4 linked regions of the Homo sapiens genome follow. The protein of the gene in region 1 purifies or fractionates together with the protein of each later gene. This does not show direct contact. Each region holds a gene or a part of one and is shown in the gene's direction. Other genes may lie near its edges.

Evidence for each region. Proteins that work in one complex are often made in the same cells at the same time.
Region 2: the proteins of RIOK3 (region 1) and OSBPL5 purify together in Homo sapiens (affinity purification with mass spectrometry; one large-scale study listed by BioGRID and IntAct). This does not show direct contact.
Region 3: the proteins of RIOK3 (region 1) and ZMAT3 purify together in Homo sapiens (affinity purification with mass spectrometry; one large-scale study listed by BioGRID and IntAct). This does not show direct contact.
Region 4: the proteins of RIOK3 (region 1) and ASCC3 purify together in Homo sapiens (affinity purification with mass spectrometry; one large-scale study listed by BioGRID and IntAct). This does not show direct contact.

Annotation. Positions count from the first base shown.
Region 1 is NC_000018.10:23,473,092-23,477,898, forward strand, and holds part of RIOK3 (serine/threonine-protein kinase RIO3), read left to right. Parts: intron 1-337; coding exon 338-535; intron 536-1,856; coding exon 1,857-2,016; intron 2,017-3,914; coding exon 3,915-3,995; intron 3,996-4,065; exon of another isoform or gene 4,066-4,087; coding exon 4,088-4,177; intron 4,178-4,807.
Region 2 is NC_000011.10:3,102,429-3,107,235, reverse strand, and holds part of OSBPL5 (oxysterol-binding protein-related protein 5), read left to right. Parts: intron 1-2,858; coding exon 2,859-3,043; intron 3,044-3,915; coding exon 3,916-3,997; intron 3,998-4,807. UniProt on the Homo sapiens protein: Lipid transporter involved in lipid countertransport between the endoplasmic reticulum and the plasma membrane: specifically exchanges phosphatidylserine with phosphatidylinositol 4-phosphate (PI4P), delivering phosphatidylserine to the plasma membrane in exchange for PI4P, which is degraded by the SAC1/SACM1L phosphatase in the endoplasmic reticulum.
Region 3 is NC_000003.12:179,061,428-179,066,234, reverse strand, and holds part of ZMAT3 (zinc finger matrin-type protein 3), read left to right. Parts: intron 1-4,807. UniProt on the Homo sapiens protein: Acts as a bona fide target gene of p53/TP53. May play a role in the TP53-dependent growth regulatory pathway. May contribute to TP53-mediated apoptosis by regulation of TP53 expression and translocation to the nucleus and nucleolus.
Region 4 is NC_000006.12:100,650,448-100,655,254, reverse strand, and holds part of ASCC3 (activating signal cointegrator 1 complex subunit 3), read left to right. Parts: intron 1-2,365; coding exon 2,366-2,530; intron 2,531-3,608; coding exon 3,609-3,695; intron 3,696-4,540; coding exon 4,541-4,717; intron 4,718-4,807. UniProt on the Homo sapiens protein: ATPase involved both in DNA repair and rescue of stalled ribosomes. 3'-5' DNA helicase involved in repair of alkylated DNA: promotes DNA unwinding to generate single-stranded substrate needed for ALKBH3, enabling ALKBH3 to process alkylated N3-methylcytosine (3mC) within double-stranded regions.

The DNA of each region.
Region 1 (4,807 bases):
ATTTTGCTCCTGAACCATATTGGGAAGACTGTAGCCTATTTTCAAGTGCATATGTCTTCATTGTATTTCAAGCTTGATTCCGTAGTCATTAAGTGAAGAACATTATGTGATAGATGGTTGAAAATCGGTTGACAATTTATTTGAAAGTATATTTTATTTAAAAAATCAAACCAAAACCTAAGGCTTTATTAAGATCCAAAACCTAAAGGCTTAAAAAAACAAGACTTGACACTGAGAGAAGGTAGATCTAATTTAGTGTTACAGAATCTTTATTTTGAAATTGTTGTACTTGTGAGCTGGCAACTTGTACTGACTTGATTTTTTTTCTTCCACTTAGCATGGAGGATGAAAAGGAAGATAGTAAAGTTATACCTACAGAATGTGCCATCAAGGTATTTAAAACAACCCTTAATGAATTTAAGAATCGTGACAAATATATTAAAGATGATTTCAGGTTTAAAGATCGCTTCAGTAAACTAAATCCACGTAAGATCATCCGCATGTGGGCAGAAAAAGAAATGCACAATCTCGCAAGGTAAAGAAAATATTGTGCTAGACGTAATCTTGGGTAAATACCTTTTTGCATTAGGATAAAAAAATCCATGCTTTCTTTTACATTCATTTATAGAAATAATGAAAGGCCAGGTGTATAACCTCGATTCATACTTTTAGGATGAAAAAGCCATTTTCTTTTTTCTTTCCTCAATGAAGCTTGAGGGAAATCTGGGCATTTTCTGCCTTAGACACTTTATCATATATCTAAATGCCATTTTTAAATTGCTTTTATCACGAAGTAAAACTTCCAGCATCCAATTAGGCTTAGCATAAAAAAATGGTTTCTTTTTTGTTTCAGAAAATGTTTGTTGCATTTAATTTGTTAATTTTGTGGGAGTAAGTTCTTACCAATCAAATTACATTTTGTTTTAATTTTTATACTTGTATCTGAATTTTCTAAGCAATTTATTTTCTATCAAAGAATTTGTTTTGTCAACCAAGAAATTCAGTAATAATCCTTCTCATTAAAAACCTTTCTATTATCTTAATTTATTAAAAGCTTAATTTTAGTTTGTTATTTTCTAAAGATATTTGCTTTCAAAAGTAATTATTCATATATATCAGTTACAAAATTCTTCTACTGAGAGTTCCCCACCAAAATAAGCCAGGCATGGTGTGCACGTGTACTCCCAGCTACTTGGGAGGCTGAGATGGGAGGACTGCTTGAACCTAGGAGTTCAAAACCAGCCTGGAAACGTTAGACTCCCAAGACCTTGTCTCAAAAAGAAAAAAAAATGTTTTTTCAATAAATTAATTAATTCCAGGTAGAATCATTTTCTAGAAGGTCTTGCTGTCCTCCAGTCTCTTTTCTGTACTCCTGAAATTCCTGCCTTTCTTAAAATTCTTCAACAGTTTTCCATAGTGGAGCTTGCCTGTCTTTGTAGCCTCAGCCCACATTGCCCTTCCTCCTACTCACAGATCCAGCTATGTTGATTGATATACATTCCCCAAATGGACTGTGCTCTTGAACACCTCCCTGCATTCCCTTGCACTGTCTTTATCTGGCTAATTCCTGTTCCCTACCTCTTCTTCTAATAAGCCATCCTTGGTGCTGTGTGCTCCTGTAGCTCCTACCCATACCTCTGCCAGTGCGTAATTGTAATTGTCTCTTGTCTGTCATTTCCATCAGTCCCTGAGCTCTCTATGGGCAGAGGCTGTGTTTTACTGTCTTTGTATTCCCACATCACCAGGGTAGAACATAGTGCCAGCTCATTGCAGGCCCTGATTAGATATTTATTGAATAAATGACATATTTTCTCTCCTTCTGATCTGTATATTCTGAATCATTTCTTTATGTATAGAATGCAGAGAGCTGGAATTCCTTGTCCAACAGTTGTACTACTGAAGAAACACATTTTAGTTATGTCTTTTATTGGCCATGATCAAGTTCCAGCCCCTAAATTAAAAGAAGTAAAGCTCAATAGTGAAGAAATGAAAGAAGCCTACTATCAAACTCTTCATGTAAGTTGTGCTTTTAAAAGAATTCACACACTACCTTTAAAAAATATTTCCTCTAAACTTTAAAAAAATTTCCTTAAAGAAGCCAGGCATGTTGGCTCACACTTGTAATCTAGAACTTTGGGAGGCTCAGGCAGTAGGATCACTTGAGCCCAGGAGTTTGAGACCAGCCTGGGCAACATGGTGAAACCCTGTCTCTACTAAAAATACAAAAAAATTAGCTGGGCGTGTGCCTGTAATCCCAGCTACTCGGGATGCTGAGGCAGGGGAATTGCTTGAACCAGGGAGGTAGAGGTTGCAGTGAACCAAGATTGCACCACTGCACTCCAGCCTGGGTGACAGAGTAAGACTCTGTCTCAAAAAAAAAAAAAAAAAATTAAAAATTAGCTGGGCACACACCTGTAGTCCCAGCTACTCGGGAGTCTAAGGTGGGAGGATCACTTGCACCCAGGAATTTAAGGCAGCAGTGAGCTATGATTGTGCCACTGCACCCCAGCCTGGGCAAGAAATAGAGCAAGACCCTATGTCTTAAAAAACAAACAAAAAAACCCAAGTTCCTTAGATAGTGCTATTTCAAGGTGCTATAACAAAGACAAGTTGAAGTTTGTGAAAGAATGTTAACACTGAAGAGTTGTTTTTCTATCAATATGTGTGTGTCTTAAATAGTTTTAGAAAACTTACAGACTTAACCAGGGAAGTCGTCATTGTTAGGATTAGTGACACAGTGCATGAAGCTATTTTTCACCAAACTTCATTAAATAAAATTTGCTGTTAGTACATTTAGCAAAGTGCCTCATTAGTTTGTGAGCTTTCATGAATGTTATAGTTTTTTGGGGCTTTTTTTTTTTTTTTTTTTTTTCAAATAAGAGACAGGGTCTCACTATGTTGCCCAGGCTGGTCTCGAACTCCTGGGCTCAAGTGATCCTCTTGCCTCAGCATCCCAAAGTGCTGGGATTACTGGTGTGAGCCACCACACCCAGCCATTGAATGTTACAGCTTTAACAGTGAAGGAAAGGAAGCAGGTCTGGTCTCATCATAAGAGAGTGATGATGAAAATTGAAAACAGTAGGGAGTGCAGGTGTTAAGTTGGAAGGCATGTTGGGAATCTCAAGGAAACTACATGCTTTGAAATAGCAACTGAATTCAATCTGAGGGCCTTCCAGGTTGAGACAATGCTCCTAATACTGCCATTATCCCTCTGTGTTTTAATTGAACACTGGAGAAACTTAATGTGCTACTTTATGCAATCTCCACATGAAGCTGTCATGTAATGCAGCCATTGATCTAGATATGGAAATTTTAATCCAAATTAATTTTTAAAGATATAGCTAGAAAGGTGATCCACCTTTCTCTGCCTCCAAAGGTAAACATTGAAAGGAAAATCAAGTATGTTTTTCTGGCCTCTTTGGGAGGTGGGGTGGCTGGGGAAGAGATTAAATAGTGATGAAACTTTTCTATTTAATTCTATTAAGGCTGGAAAACAAATGCATTAATGTTGATTTCTACTGTAAGACTTTGAGGGGGGCTGGGCGCAGTGCTCACGCCTGTAATCCCAGCACTCTGGGAGGCCGAGGTGGGCAGGTCACGAGGTCAGGAGATTGAGACCATCCTAACTAACATGGTGAAACCCCATCTCTACTAAAAAAAATTACAAAAAATTAGCCAGGAGTGGTGGTGGGTGCCTGTAGTCCGAGCTACTTGGGAGGCTGAGGCAGGAGAATGGTGTGAACCAGGGAGGCGGAGCTTGCAGTGAGCTGAGATCACACCACTGCACTCCAGCCTGGGCGACAGAGTGAGACTCTGTCTCCAAAAAAATAAAAAATAAAAAACTTTCAGGGGTGTCATCATCAATAATACCACTTAATTATTCATTTCCTAATGTGTGCCTTCCCTCTTCACAGTTGATGCGGCAGTTATATCATGAATGTACGCTTGTCCATGCTGACCTCAGTGAGTATAACATGCTGTGGCATGCTGGAAAGGTGAGGAGCACATTTTGTTAACATTCAGATTTAATTACTGTAAGTAAAATTTAAAATGTAAATACATCAGTTCATGTTCTGTATTGAAATAGGTCTGGTTGATCGATGTCAGTCAGTCAGTAGAACCTACCCACCCTCACGGCCTGGAGTTCTTGTTCCGGGACTGCAGGAATGTCTCGCAGGTAGACGTGTAAACCAATATGCCTTTTTTTGTTGGATGTAACAGCTGCAGGTATTTTTCTCACTCCTAAGATAAGTAAGAGGACCATATTCTTAGAAATTGAAGGAAGGGATACGGGCTGCTTTCAGGACAAGGATATAAAGATCAATTTGTCATATTTCATTTTGCAAGAATTTGATTCCATGTCTTACAGTTGGGTAAAATGTTCAAGGGGTGCCAGGTATGGTGGCTCACGCCTGTAATCCCAGCACTTTGGGAGGGTGAGGTGGGTGGATCATTTGATGTCAGAGGTTCAAGACCAGCCTGGCCAACATGGTGAAACCCCATCTCTACTAAAAATGCAAAATTAGCCGGGCATGGTGGCAGGCGCCTGTAATCCCAGCTACTTGGGAGGCTGAGGCAGGAGACTCACTTGAACCTGGGAGGCAGAGGCTGCAGTGAGCCAAGAACGTGCTACTGCACTCCACCCAGCCTGGGCAACAGAGTGAGGCTCCGTCTCAAAAAAAAAAAAAAAAAAATATGCCAGGTGCAGTGGTTCATGCCTGTAATCCCAGCACTTTGGGAGGCCAAGGTGGGTGGATCACCTGAGGTCAGGAGTTCAAGACCAGCCCGGCCAACATGGTGAAACGCT
Region 2 (4,807 bases), on another chromosome or scaffold:
AGCGTCTCCCCTGCCTCGGCCCCTTGTTCCGGAAGCAGAGGTAGCCATGCCTCATCCTAGGGGGAGCACGCAGGGCCCAGGGGGTAGCTTTTGTCCCCATCACTTGGCAGTGAGTCCAGGAGCTGTCTTTTAGGTAAACAGGCTCCTCCCGTCTTCCAAAGAGGCTGCCCCGCTGGCTGGCTGGCTGGCTGGCATGCAGATGCGGGGATCGGGCAGGGGTTTGCTGCAGACAGGCAACTCCCTCCTTGGGCTGGAATGCGCTGATGGGAGAACAGGAGGCTCAAGAGGGGCCCTTGACCCCATCTGCTGGGCGGCCCCACTTCCTGGAGGAGCGCAGAGGAGGGCGTGTGGACCTGAGTCCCATGCTCACAGGCACCTGCACACCTGGTGCTCTCCTGGGGCCCTGGGAGAGCCATGAATGAGACAGACCTGGGCTCTGGGCCCCCAGTGTATGGGCAGCAGGAAACATAGATGATAAACCCACAAACACAAGAGGAGGCTGGGGAGCAGGTGAGGGAGGCAAACCGGGCCATGGGCTCTTTCTGAAGACGTGAGTGACGGGAGGGAGGATGGCGTTCCAAGAAGAAGGACCACCAGCGCACGAGCTCAAGGGAGGCAGCAGGCGGTGGGCAGCAGTGTCCCCAGAGCATGCCTGCAGATGAACAGCCAGGGCAGCTGACTCCCCGCAGCTGGAGAGAACTCACGTGGCCCTGGGCACCGTGGGGCGCCTCAGGAAGGGGAGTCCGGAAGGAATCACAGGATCTAAGCTTCCGCTGGGTGACGGGTGCAGGCTGAGGAAGCCGGGCTCTGGGGTGGGGGCTGCGCTCTGGGGTGGGGGCTGTCAGGAACGGGGGGCTCTGTGATCTGGGATCTTGTCATTCTCACCCGGGAGGCGAGACAAGAGCAAGGCCGTGGCTGTCACTGAGGGCAAGGGGCAGTCCCGGTTTCAGCAGGAAAGGGGAATTCGTTCCTTGCTGTTGTTTGGACAGCGTCGTGTTCGCATCTTGCTCTGCACAGGGACAGAGGGGGCTCCTCCGTGGTCCGTGAAATCCTTGTGTTCAGTGGAACACCATGGCCTCCCTGCGGGCTGCTGTTCCCACAGAGCTCAGGCTCCTGTGCGGGGATGGGAAGGTTAGGATGGGCCTATGGGGAGTGGACCGAGGGCCCTGGGGGCCTCAGGCTGAGAGTATTGGGGAAGCCACCGGCGGGTTAGGCAAGGGCCTCGGGACAGCCGAGGGGCGGGGGTGGACACTGGGCCACCCGTAGGGAAGACCCATTGTTAGGAGAAAGCTGAGGACACCCTGGACCCAGCTGTGATGGAGAAGGGAGAAGTGGGCAGACTCAGGGTATTTCGGAAGTTGGATTGGGTAGATCTCAGCCAGATGGTGATGAGCGACGCTGCTGTGAGCCAGGCAGAGCGGGCTGCTGCAGGTGCGAGCCTGGGGCTCCGGGCAGAGGGCATGGAGCGGGCAGCCAAGGGGCCCGGGCACCCAACCTTCAGAGGCCGAGCACAGATAAGGCTTCACAGAGGTGGGGCAGGGAGGTGGGAGGATCCAGGAGCCCAGGTGTCTCAGAGCCAGCTGGTCCGAGAGGTGGGGCAGGATGAGAAGCAGGGATGGCTGCTGGACCAGTGAGGAGTGGTGGGGACCTACGGCAAGACAGTCTCAGTAGAGAAGACGGCAGAAGCCTGGTGGAGAGGGTTAAGGAGGACGGGACGGGAGCACATGGACAGAGCAGGATTCCTGACAGCCGAAGCTACCCATGATTTCCAAGCCCCAAAGCTACAGCACTGGGCTCCCCATGACCCCTCATGGGGTCAGACATGGCTCCTGGGTGTCCACACACACTGTCCACTGGGCCAGTGCCACCAGGATCTGTCCGTGGCCATGCGTGCACAGAGAGGCGAAGCCATTTGCCTGAGGAGTCCCAGCAGCGGGGATGAGATCCTGATGCAGGACTCACAGGCCACACTCCATCTTGCCCGCTCCCTGGGGCAGCTGCCGTTGGGCTAAAAATGCAGAGAGCCCTGAGTTCAGATCTGACCTCTGCCGCATAGCAGCCGTGTGACCTTGGACAAGTCACTTGTCCCCTCTGTGGAGGGGGAGGACCAGGGTCCCCGTTCCCTGGGGCTGCGGTGAGGTGCAAGTCTGGAGTGAGTAAGGGGAGCCCCGCCACCCCAAGTCATGTATTCTGGAGCTGTGGTGAGGGTTAGATGTCTCAGAAAAGGAAGAGATGAGGGGGCCTTCGTGAGGGGCACACAGGCTTCGGAAGTGAGGGGTGAGTTCACATGCCCGTGTCGGTTTTGCAGGAGCAGGCTCACCTCCAAACTCACCCAGTTGTCCACATTCAATATCTGAAGGCTTCTGTATATCAATCAGACCTCAATAAAGTGGTTCAAAAACAGAAAAAGAAATGTTACAATAACCTTTTTTAAAAAATGGAAGAGCAGGCCAAATCCCTGCCTCCCCTGGCAGCTGTGAAGACAGGGTGGGCTGCAGTCTCTCTGTTCCCTGGGCCCAGGGTCCCACGATGCACAGACAGGTTTCAACAGCAGGTGTTGGGAGGCTGCACCCTGGACTTTGAGGAGGGCAGGGCATGGGGTCCCTGGGCAAGGAGCAGAGACAGGAGCGGGCCTGGACCTGGGCTGCGGGTGCTCCAGGGGTGGGGTGGAGACGCATTGGGAAGAGTTCACATCTGATGGGGCTGAGTCAGCCTCATGAGGCCATGGAGGCCAGGTCAGGGGTTTACACCCTAAGGGGTGGCAGGTACAGCCTCCTCCAGCCAGAGCTGCCACTGTCCCGCCACCCCTTCCTCCCGGCTCTTCCGGGCAGGGCCTGACTGCAGCCTGTCTGCTGCAGCTGGGCGAGGCGTCCCAGGTGGAGACAGTGTCAGAGGAGAACAAGAGTCTGATGTGGACCCTGCTGAAGCAGCTACGGCCAGGCATGGACCTGTCCCGCGTGGTGCTACCCACGTTCGTACTGGAGCCGCGCTCCTTCCTGAACAAGCTCTCCGACTACTACTACCACGCAGACCTGCTCTCCAGGTGCGCGCCATGCCGGGAGGGGCACCCCACACCTCGTCCTGCATCTGCATGAGACCCTGCAGCACCCCCAGCCCCTACCTGCCCTGTGGGGGCTTCCAGAGAATCCCATGGCTGATCTCAGCCCACTGTTTCTGCAGCTGTAGCCTCCCAGGGGGCCCTGTCTCCAAGATGGGCCTGGGAGGAGCCAGCCATCCGTGGTGAGAGGGGGGTCAGTCCCAAGCACTTGCCATGCACCCTGAGCCCTGCACCCTCGAGCTGGATGGGATGGGCTGCAGAGGCAGGAAGGGGGCTGCAGAGGCAGGAATGGGGCTACAGAGGCAGGAAGGGGGCTGCGCAGACTGGAAAGGGGCTGCAGAGGCTGGAAGGGGGCTGCGCAGGCAGGAAGAGGGCTGCAGAGGCAGGAAGGGACTGCAGAGGCTGGAAGGGGGCTGCAGAGCTGGAAGAGGGTTGCAGAGGCAGGAAGGGGCAGCAGAGCCTGGAAGGGGGTACGCAGGCTGGAAGGGGGCTGCAGAGACTGGAAGGGGGCAACAGAGGCAGGAAGGGGGCTGCAGGCTCAGGAGCCAGGCAGAGGGAGCAGGTGGGAACAAGAGCATGGGCAGGGAGGCTTCCTGGAGACAGGGGCACCCTGGCAGCCCAGGTCAGCAGTGTCCTCTCTGCCCCAGCGTGGGAGCAGCCCTGGCACTTTCTGATTAGAAGAACCCACTTCCCCAGAGAAAATTATCCTGCTTGGGGGTGACCAGAGCGCCTGGGCCAAGTGGCCTGTTTCCAGCTGAGTGGTTGGAGGTCGGGATGGTAGGAGGGAAGGGTCAGGGAAAGGGAGGGTGGCCCACGGCCCCCGGAGCTGGGGTCAGCGTTCTCCTGCCCCATGGCAGGGCTGCGGTGGAGGAGGATGCCTACAGCCGCATGAAGCTGGTGCTGCGGTGGTACCTGTCTGGCTTCTACAAGAAGCCCAAGGTGAGCCCCTGCCAGCCAGGGAGGGTGGGGCTCCGGCCCAGGAGTCTGTCTGCTCAGCCCTCGTCCCTTGGCACTTCCCTGAGTCCCCGGGCCACCCCCTACCCCACATGGCTTAGAAGGATCCTGGTCACCCCCACAGAGGGCCCAGGTCCTTGGTGATGGGGGACAGGGCCCCACTTCCCACAGTTGGGGCCCTGGATGGCTCAGGCCGGGTCCCCAAGGGTGGTCTCATCCCTCAAGGCCCCAAGCTGGACCCCTTCCCCACCCCCCAAGAAAACAGCCTCAGGCCGTATTACAGATGGTGCCAAAAGAAAGGAGCTTTAAACCTTAAACCTCAAGGTACCTTTGGGATCTGTGGTTTTCATAAATTTTTAGCCATGGAAACCCCTTTTAGAACCCCAAACCCAGGACTCCAGTGACAGCAGGGCTGCTCTCGTTGTAGTGAGCAAGAGGGCCCGCAGCTCCCCTGACCCCACCACAGAGCCCTGGGGTTCCATGGGAAGCAAGTTTGAAAACCACGACCGTGGTTCCACTTCTTTATTGTGCAGATGGGGAAACTGAGGCTCAGGTGAAAGGATGGCCTGAGTCGTACAGCAGGTTTGGGGTAGAGGCAGGACTTCTGACTGCCTGGTGCCTTCCATGGCTTTCAGCAGGCTGTGTGCAGGTTACACCCAAGGTCCAAGGAGAGTGTGACAAGGTCAGGGTCTCGTGTCCCTTCTCCGAGCTAAGAAGTGGACAGGATTCCCCTGAGGCTGTCCCCCAAGAATGTAAACCACAGGCAAAGCATAGTCCCCGCAAAGCAGAAGTGAG
Region 3 (4,807 bases), on another chromosome or scaffold:
ACGTTTTCCCCCTTTCCCCAGTACGTACTCTCATCACCTTGCTGTCCAGTACAGTTGTTTGATACAGGGTCTTCCTTTGCCTGTCTTTACCATTCAAGCAGAGTCTGTTAGCATGATTAATCTCAACTCCAAGACTGTATTAGCTTTCTTCATTTATTCCTACGGAATGTTCAGTTTTATAGCCTAAGACTCACTTTGAAAAAAGAAGCCAGGGTTCTAAAGGTTTAATTATTAGCCATATAAAGCCCCTAACAAATCATTAACTTGGGGGCAAACCCACTTGTATGCTATACACATATATAATTATCTTTATTTATTTATTTTTTTTTGAGACAGAGTCTCGCTCTGTTGCCCAGGCTGGAGTGCAGTGGCGCGATCTTGGCTCACTGCAGCCCCTGTCTCCGGGGTTCAAGCGATTCTCATGCCTCACCCTCTCGAGTAGCTGGGATTACAGGCACACACCAGCACACCCAGCTAATTTTTGTATTTTTGGTAGAGATGGAGGTTTGCCATGTTGGCTAGATTCAGCCTCCCAAAGCGCTGGGATTACAGGCGTGAGTGACCTACCGCACCCAGCCTATAATTCCCTTTTAAGGAAGAGTTGTTTACTTTTATGAGGGAAAACTCTCGGGCAGTGTGTAATTTTAACATGTCCATGGATTATACATATACCTTATTTCTTTTTTTCTCCTAATAAAACTTTTTGACTTCATGGACTTTGAAAGGTGCTACTGATGATACATAGAGAAGATTCAGTTTGATGCAAGGTCTTTGGATTATAAGGCTAAAACTAGATAAGCAGAATCAACATTTGTTTTTTTCTTTTATTTTACATTTTTGCGTATGTTCTAAACTATGTAGTTGACAAGATTAGTAATTATACTTAATTTCAGTTTCCTCAGTGATACAGTGAATAAATAAATTAGAAAATATAAGAAAAGGGAAATACAATTTAGGTAAATTTCTCAAAAATCAGAATTTTTAAGTGGAAAGGTTGAAGGAGAACAGGATGTAATGGGACAATTTAAGCAGCTAAAAACCAGGGTAAAGATGGGAAAGAAAAGAGGCAAGCAAGTAATCAGAAAGTAGGAGCTTACAGAAAATGAAAAGTTTGGGTATAATAAAGTATATTGCTAAGACTTCAGAAGCAAAGATTCGAATGAGACTGATGTTATTGGTAACTCTTAAAGAGAGAAGGTTTTAACAGACAACTAAGGCAAAGCAGTTCATGTGTAAAAATACAGAGCAATTATGTTAGGGTAACATAGAAGAAAGGTAATCTTAGAAGTGAAATCTGGATTTCAATAAGATAGAAATGGTCAAGATGAGAGTGGATAGTGCAAAGTGTAGATCAGAATAATAAACAGAGTGTGAACATAACTCTAGAAGTGGGTGAGCTACCAAAGAAGGAAAGCGTAGAAATGTTAGCCAAAAAGATGCATCAGAGGGTGTACATGAATAAGCAGTAATAAAAGAAAGATTACTGAAGACAAGGCTAAGACCAGGCCAGGTGTGGTGCCTCACACCTGTAATTCTAGCACTTTGGGAGGCTGAGGCGGGAAGATAGTTTGCGTTCAGGAGTTCAAGACCAGCATGGACAGCATAACAAGACCCTGTCTCTACAAAAATACAAGGAAATTAGCTGGGCATAGTGGCAGACACTTGTAGTCCCAGCTACTCGTGAGGCTGAGACAGGAGGCTCACTTGAGCCTGGGAGATTGAGGCAGCAGTGAGCTATAATCATGCCACTGCACTCCAGCAAACAAAGACAACAACAAAAAACACACAAAAAAGAGAAGGATAAGACCAATGAGTAAGGCTTACCAAGCACAGGAATAAGTAGAATGCCAATGATTGTAGACTAATAAAGTGGTTTAGGATTAAATGAGATGATGGATGTAAAATTTTATTTCAAGACTAAAAACTTACTAATTTTTAATACAGAGCATTACCAAGCTGTACCTTCATTATTTCAGTTATGTGTGAGATAAAATGGGTCACGGGTAGCCTGTTTATGAGCTAGAAACACATTTGTGTGAAGTGATAAATCACTGTGATTACATTACTCAAAACTTTTTAGTCAGTTGATGCCATTGTTGAAATCGTGGAGTTTCAAATTGCCTCGGGTATTGTAAACAATGGTGGTTACACTAGAGCCGGACTGTATCATGTGCCAGTAATCCAGGACACGCAGTGGAAACTGCCCAATAAATACTTCCCTTTAAGCTCACTAGCATTTTTTCCTGACATCCCAGTGTTCCCAAGCTGGGGCTACCTTAGCAGTGACCCATGTGTATCTGTAGTCATCACAGATTTAGTTTTATTCCAAGGACTTTTAAAAACTGGTCAGTTGGCTTCAAAACATCATTAGCTATTGTTTTATTTTTAATGAAGCCATCAAATATTATATTCTTAAAATTAGGGCTTTGGATATAACTTAATTTAAAATCCAATCTTTGGAGGAGAAACATATTTTCATTTTATTAAAGTCTATCTGCAGGCTTCAGGTTACTTAGGGCAAGGCTGGCATGGGGTAACATACCACTGTTTCATCAGCATAAATGCCCAGAGGAAGAATTGCTTTAGCAGGGAAGGTTATTAACAGAAATAAAGAAAAGCAAAAAGCACGGATGAATTTTGCTAAGGCATCCACAGTTTAAAGTCACCAGTTTATTTGCTAATTTGCATGTATATATTTAAAAAGATCTACTTACTCAAAGTACATTTATAAAATTTGTCATAAACATGGCTTTCTATTTGTAATAGTTAGTGGCCAGATAGCAACCTACCATGAATTAGATTGATTAGAGAAAGAGAACACAGGTGAAAGAATAGTTTTAGAATTAGGATGCTGAGTGTAGTGGTCTTAATTCATAATTCATAATGAAGAGAATGCTATTAGATTTTTCCCAAAATTTAAAGCACTGATTTTGGCACTTACATTTTAATATTGATCACCCAGGTTTGGATCACTGAATTAAATCTCAGCTAATTTTCATGTATTCAAAATTCTCCTATCTGATTTTTTTCCAAATGGACTTGCAGTGGACTGAGAATGGCCAAAACACACTTCAGATTTGGTTTTAATGCATGTGCTTTACACGTGGCATATATGCTTTGGAATCTAACAACTTTGGGCTAGGATCTTGGCTCAGTTACTTTAGGCAAGACACTGAATCTCTCTTTATTCAATATCTGTAAAGTAGGGGTCATTGTACTTCCTCTGCAGGATTGTGAGACTTGCATATGTTATCTTAATAAATGCTGGTTGATTGAAATAGGTTGCTATTGTTTAGAAGTGTTTGGGTCTCAAATGAGCAGAATGAGATGGCACACAGCTGTCTTACTGTTGTTACTACCTTGATAGTAACTTGCTGTAGGACCTTGTGTAAATAAGCAAAACTTTGTTTTCCTTGATTGTTCTCCCGAGATAGTCTTTTAGATCCAGATACCAGGTTACCTTAAAAGATTCTCATGAAGAATAATTCAACCAACAAATGAGGCAAAATAAAATGATTTTCAAATGTAAATATGCTTTCAACCATACTACTCGTCTGTCAGCTTAGTCCATTTACCCAATAATCAATCCTTGTTGGTTTTCTTGTTCTGCTCTCTGAAATCGCCAGCTCTGTAGGCTTTTCTAGCTCTTGCTTTGATCACTTTAGAGGACAGAAGCTCTCTGTGATCCTGCCAGTTTTTTGCCTCCTCCTCTAGTCTACCCCTACCTCATTTCTTCTTATTTCGAAATGATAGATACCCTTTCTTTTGTCCAAGTTTGATTCCTCATCCTGTTTTCTGGATTTCATCACCTTTTCACCTCAATCAAAAACTATGCCCAAGTCTTTTCTATATAAATAAAAATAGCAGCAGCAACCTTCTGTTTACTTTTAATCCCTTCTATTAGCAACCTTTCTCCTCTCCTCTCCTGTCCTTAGCATTCTGCAGGTAGAATTGTTCTCTTCAGGTCTTTATTTCCCATTCATTCCTCAGCCCACTGTACTCTGATTTCCATTCCTATAGGCCGCTGAAATGGTCCTTTCCATTGTCACCATGATCTTACAGGCCAAATCTAACTCCTTCTCACTTGACCCCTTTGTAGCATTAGCCAATGGTAACAACTTTCTCCTAAAAAAATTTAAAAATATTTTTATTTAAAATAATGCCTGAGGAACCAAAGGATTTATAATGAAAAGTAGTAATCACCTGTTCTCCACCCATTCCCTACCTTTTTTTTCCTCTCCATTCTCTTCTCCTTTCTGACTCCCAACTTGAGCTGGCTATAGTTTTACTTTGACACTGTCAAGATTGATCACATTTTTATCCATTCTGTCATCAAATTAAGTTTTCCATGCTCTATTTGCAGGTTGATGCCAATTGTTGAAAATTAACATTGAGTTTTTGCATTATTGTGAATAGGGAATTTTGCACTATTATGAGTGGGGAAATATTGTTCACTGCAGAGCTGTTTCCTTCCCTGTATTTCCAGTGTCATGATCCCATGCTACTCACAAGAGATGTTCAAATAGGTAACCCTTTCCTGAATGCCACCAGTTGCTCAAAATTGTGTCTATTTTAGTTTGCTTCATATGTGGATTATAACTTTGAAATAACTTTTTGTTTTTCCTTGAGTTTCTGGTACTTAAAAAAAAAACTAGAGAGAAGAATCTTAAGCCTTTCAAAAAAGGTATTAGCATCTCAATCTTTCTTTATATTGCTTACAACCCATTTCATTTATCTTCATGAAACCCACTGTTTTCTGATTCTGATTTTGACTAGTTGTTCTAATTTGGATTAGTTGTTCCATATT
Region 4 (4,807 bases), on another chromosome or scaffold:
CAGTTTGAGGACTGGAATCAGTTCCACTATTCAAGTCCATATACATAGACTGAGAATTAGATGCATTTGATAGCAGTTCTTCCTATGAACTTCACAATTGTGTGGTCCGTGTGGCTTATAGATTCTGTGAAATCTTGTCTTTCCTTTATAACTCTGCTTCATATATTGTAAATGTGTCCTAATTGCAGATAAAATCCAGTTGTTGTCTAATGAAAACATTATTCTACAATGATCATATGGATATTAACTAGTATTAAGTCAAAATTTGTATAAGTTGAACTTTATTCAAAATTATAGTTTCCCCTAATTTACTATGACTTAGTTTTTATATGAATCCTATTGTGTTATCAAAGCAGTTACCAATTTTTAAATTTTTATTTCTTTTATTTTTTTCTTTCCCTATGCAGTAGATTTTACCATGGGAAAATTGAAACTTAAGGCTTGCGGGAGGAAAAATAAGAAAAGCAGCAGCAGCAATTAGTTCTGAGGCTGTTAAATCTAAAGCCGTTATTAGGTTTTTATACTTAGATTTACTCTAGATGGGACTCACCTACCTTTCTTTGTCTCAGTTGAAATTTGTGCTAATCTTTAAATGAATGTTTACATTTACAGCCAAATTGCTCTGTTATAACATATAACTGCATTATAACCTGTAACCTTACACATTTAAAGAATATGGCACTAGTTATTCCCATCACAAATATGGGCATTTTGAGAAGACCCAGTGGCACTATGAAAATGTTTTGAAGGAGTAAAGAAAAACAAAAACTAAACAATTTATTTTTACGGACTAAGCCATCTCAAATTTTGGAACAAGATAAATACATCAATTGACTTTAAAGTACTAGGTTATAATCAAAAGTCATTTGCCTTTCATTTTCCAGTATAAAGACCTTTTGGATACATAGTACCTTTATACGTCAGAAAATCTTGACCCTTTTTTTTTTTTTTGATTTGTGTGTTTTAATGTTATTACTCAATACAAATTTGTGGCCACAAAACTCTTATGAACTAACACAGATAAAACAGTTTAGCATATTTTTGATGGTTTAGTAATAGGTGATTAATAAAATAGTTTTATAAGTTGAACCTGATACATATATTATCACTCATAGCAAACATTTAAGACTTTTTGTATTTGCTGATGTAACTCTTGACTCCATCTTACTTCCCTGCAGTTGATATTCTTTTGCTCCATTTTCCTGATTTTTAAAATTTATTTTAGCTATATTTTGTACATAAATAAGCTGCCATAAATATCTAAGTTAGAACAAATGGTAGTAGTGTTAACTCATTAATTGATTTCTAAATTGTTTTAATACTCCCCCTACTCCATTAAAGGTCATATTTCACTTTACTCCTCATGACTACAGAGTGTTCCTTAATAATTGGCATGTGTACATACATATATTTATACACAATACTATAGTAACAAGAATATTTGTTAATATCTTATGTTTTATTATTTCTGCTTAGAAAAAGTATTAGATAAGTAATAGTTTTAAAACTATACAAAAATTCACTGTCAACTTTATTTACTTTAGAATGGGTTCTCCCATCTGCATATAATAATAATAAAAGTAAAAAGTAAGTAAAGTGAGCCAAGATCACGCCACTGCACTCCAGCCTCGCTCTGTCGCCCAGGTTGGAGTGCAGTGGCATGATCTTGGCTCACTGCAACCTCTGTCTCCTGGGTTCAAGTGATTCTCCTGCCTCAGCCGCCTGAGTAGCTGGGATTACAGGCGCGCACCACCATACCCAGCTAATTTTTGTATTTTTAGTAGAGATGGGGTTTCTCCTTGTTTGTCAGGCTGCTCTGAAACTTCTGACCTCGTGAGCCGCCCACCTTGGCCTCCCAAAGTGCTGGGATTACAGGTGTGAGCCACTGTGCCCGGCCGGATAACTTTGCAGTTCTAAATATATCTTGATTTTGACAGGGAAAGCATTCTTGCTATCATTTCTCCAAATAACTGATAATAAAGTAGGAATATGATTTGACAATTTAAAATCCCTATTTACTTTAGTATGGGAGAAAGAAGACAATTATTGAGTTTTTAAAATTTGATTTTTAATCTTTGTGATTTTAAAGATCATAAGATCATATAAGAATTTTAGATTCCAAAATATTGGTATCTGAAAAGAATATGCACATTGATAATTTTAATGAATTTTTAAGCTTCCTTTATTTAATGGCATAAAATATTTTCAATTATTTCCTAAATGTAGAAAAATGTACTTTAAAAATTGTAATTAAAAAGTCTAACTAAAACATTAAGAAAAGTTTTAATTTCCATAAATAAATATATGTTTGCAAATGGTTACTCTCTAAAGCACTATTCAACTGTTTATATATTTTTTGCCATAGATTGACCCAACATTAAGAAAGCATCGAGAACAGTTGGTCATTGAAGTTGGACGAAAACTAGACAAAGCTCAGATGATTCGTTTTGAGGAGCGAACTGGATATTTTTCCTCAACTGATTTGGGTAGAACTGCCAGCCATTACTATATTAAATACAACACCATTGAGGTATTATACTAATGCAAATATGTTTGATTTTAGATGCAAATACTTTCTAGACTTCAAAATATATTATTAATGTAAAATAATGAAAGCAAATAATAGAACAAAATCCATTTAACTTATATGAATTCAACAGTATACCCTCAGTAAAGACAAGAAAAAAATAAAACTTCAGATACTAAGGAACCTCTTGTCATCCTATTCAATGAGTGTATCCCAAGCAATAAACACACCCAAGCCTAAATAGTCAAGGCACATTTGCTTTTACATGTAACGGTTTTCAGAAAACACCTCATGTGCTTACTAACTTTCCCCCGTCTTTCCCCAAATAAACCTTCTATTTGTATAGCACTTTAGGTTTCTTCAAAACCTTTAAACATATATTATCTCAGAACTATGATCCGGTTGAAATCAATCCAACACGTTGTCTCTGGCTTTTCACTCCTTCCATCACCTATTCACATCCACTCATTTTGTCAAAGTAACTTTTTAAATTTGTTCACTTGCTAGTGTGTTGCTACCACTCTATATCCTAAACCTGTTTGCTGTTCTTTTGCAGGAACTTTAGGCATTCTTTAGCATTTGTCTTCAATCTATGTGGCCTTTGACTGATTTTTTTCAACTCAGTTTTCTAATTTTCTGTATGTCCTCACTAGTAATATTTTGAGAATTTTCAGACTACATATTTTCTAGATATACATCTCTGAATTTTATGATACATGATCAGCTTAGAATTCGTGAATTGTGCAGATTTCCACATGGCCATGCTGAAAATAAGCACAAACCAGAATTTTATTAACTTTTTAAAGGTATCTAGTGTAGATGTTATTAACTTTTATTCACCATCCATCTTTTTGCTGCTAAAGATCTTCCTTAGCTAATTATGTTCTAGGAATTTTCTTTGGTCTTTGATAAATTTGTTGATGTTTATAAAGCAGTGACTTTAAATACTGTAACACAGACATTATAACTGCACTGTCTAGGGCTCAAATTTCTTTTAAAATGTGTAATTTATAGTCACATTTTTAATTTAAAATATTTAAAATATTTTTATTTTAATCAAATATAACACTTACTTTGGTAGACCTTTAATGAACTCTTTGATGCTCACAAAACAGAAGGTGATATCTTTGCCATAGTCTCCAAAGCTGAAGAATTTGATCAAATTAAGGTAAGATTTCTTGAAATTTGAATCAAATGCATACAACATGTATGCATTCATTCATTTATAAAAGGTTCTCATTAATACCATATAAGCTGTATGGCACATCACATTTGGAATATCAGCAATGTTCTTCATTTAACAATAAGACCCACTGTCCTAGATTATAATATTACATCATACCTGACATCATTCTTTTCTCTGTACTCCACATCAAATAATTTAAATTGGTTTTGCAGTAATGAAACTGTTGAAGAATGTAGTATGAAGATTTTGGTTTATTGCAATATAAGGCTCATTGAAGAAAATGTAAAAGTACCTGTATGATTCAAACCTTAGATATGAGTATTTCTGTACCTGTATTAATATTTAATCTTATTAACAGTGAAAACTTTAATACTTTGAATCATAGTACTTCATGGCTTTAAGCTATGAATGTATTATACCATATAAAAATATATGACTATAATGAATGCATTTGAAGATAATTCAAGTTGCCCTAATCCAGTTGGGCAGAGGTTTTACTCTGGTCAAATAAAATATGAAATCTCATCAATTCAAGGATGGTGAGGTCAGAAGATTTAATTTTTTGGCATATCAAATTTTTATATGTCAATGGCAAATTTAATATTGGTGATGAATAATAAAATGTAATTGTATCAGCCTCAAGATCATTTCATATTGCAGTTTTTTAGCTACCTATGGAAAAATCATTGTTATTTAACTCTATGAAAGAAAAATGCTGCATTATAGTAAATGGAAACTCTTTAAAAACATGCAATGTATTTAATTTCAATGTGAAAAATTTAAATAAATCAGCCCCAAAATTCCAATAAATACATTGATTCTTCTAGGTCAGAGAAGAGGAAATAGAGGAGTTAGATACCTTATTAAGCAATTTTTGTGAACTCTCCACTCCTGGAGGTGTAGAGAATAGTTATGGGAAAATAAACATCTTACTTCAAACTTATATCAGCCGAGGAGAAATGGACAGTTTCTCCCTTATATCAGATTCTGCATATGTTGCACAGGTAAGTATCTTATTCCCTTCCAGTTTTCTCTTCCTTGAATATATTTAGAGGACCAAGGTGTTAATTCATGCTGTGCTATGAATGCATTGC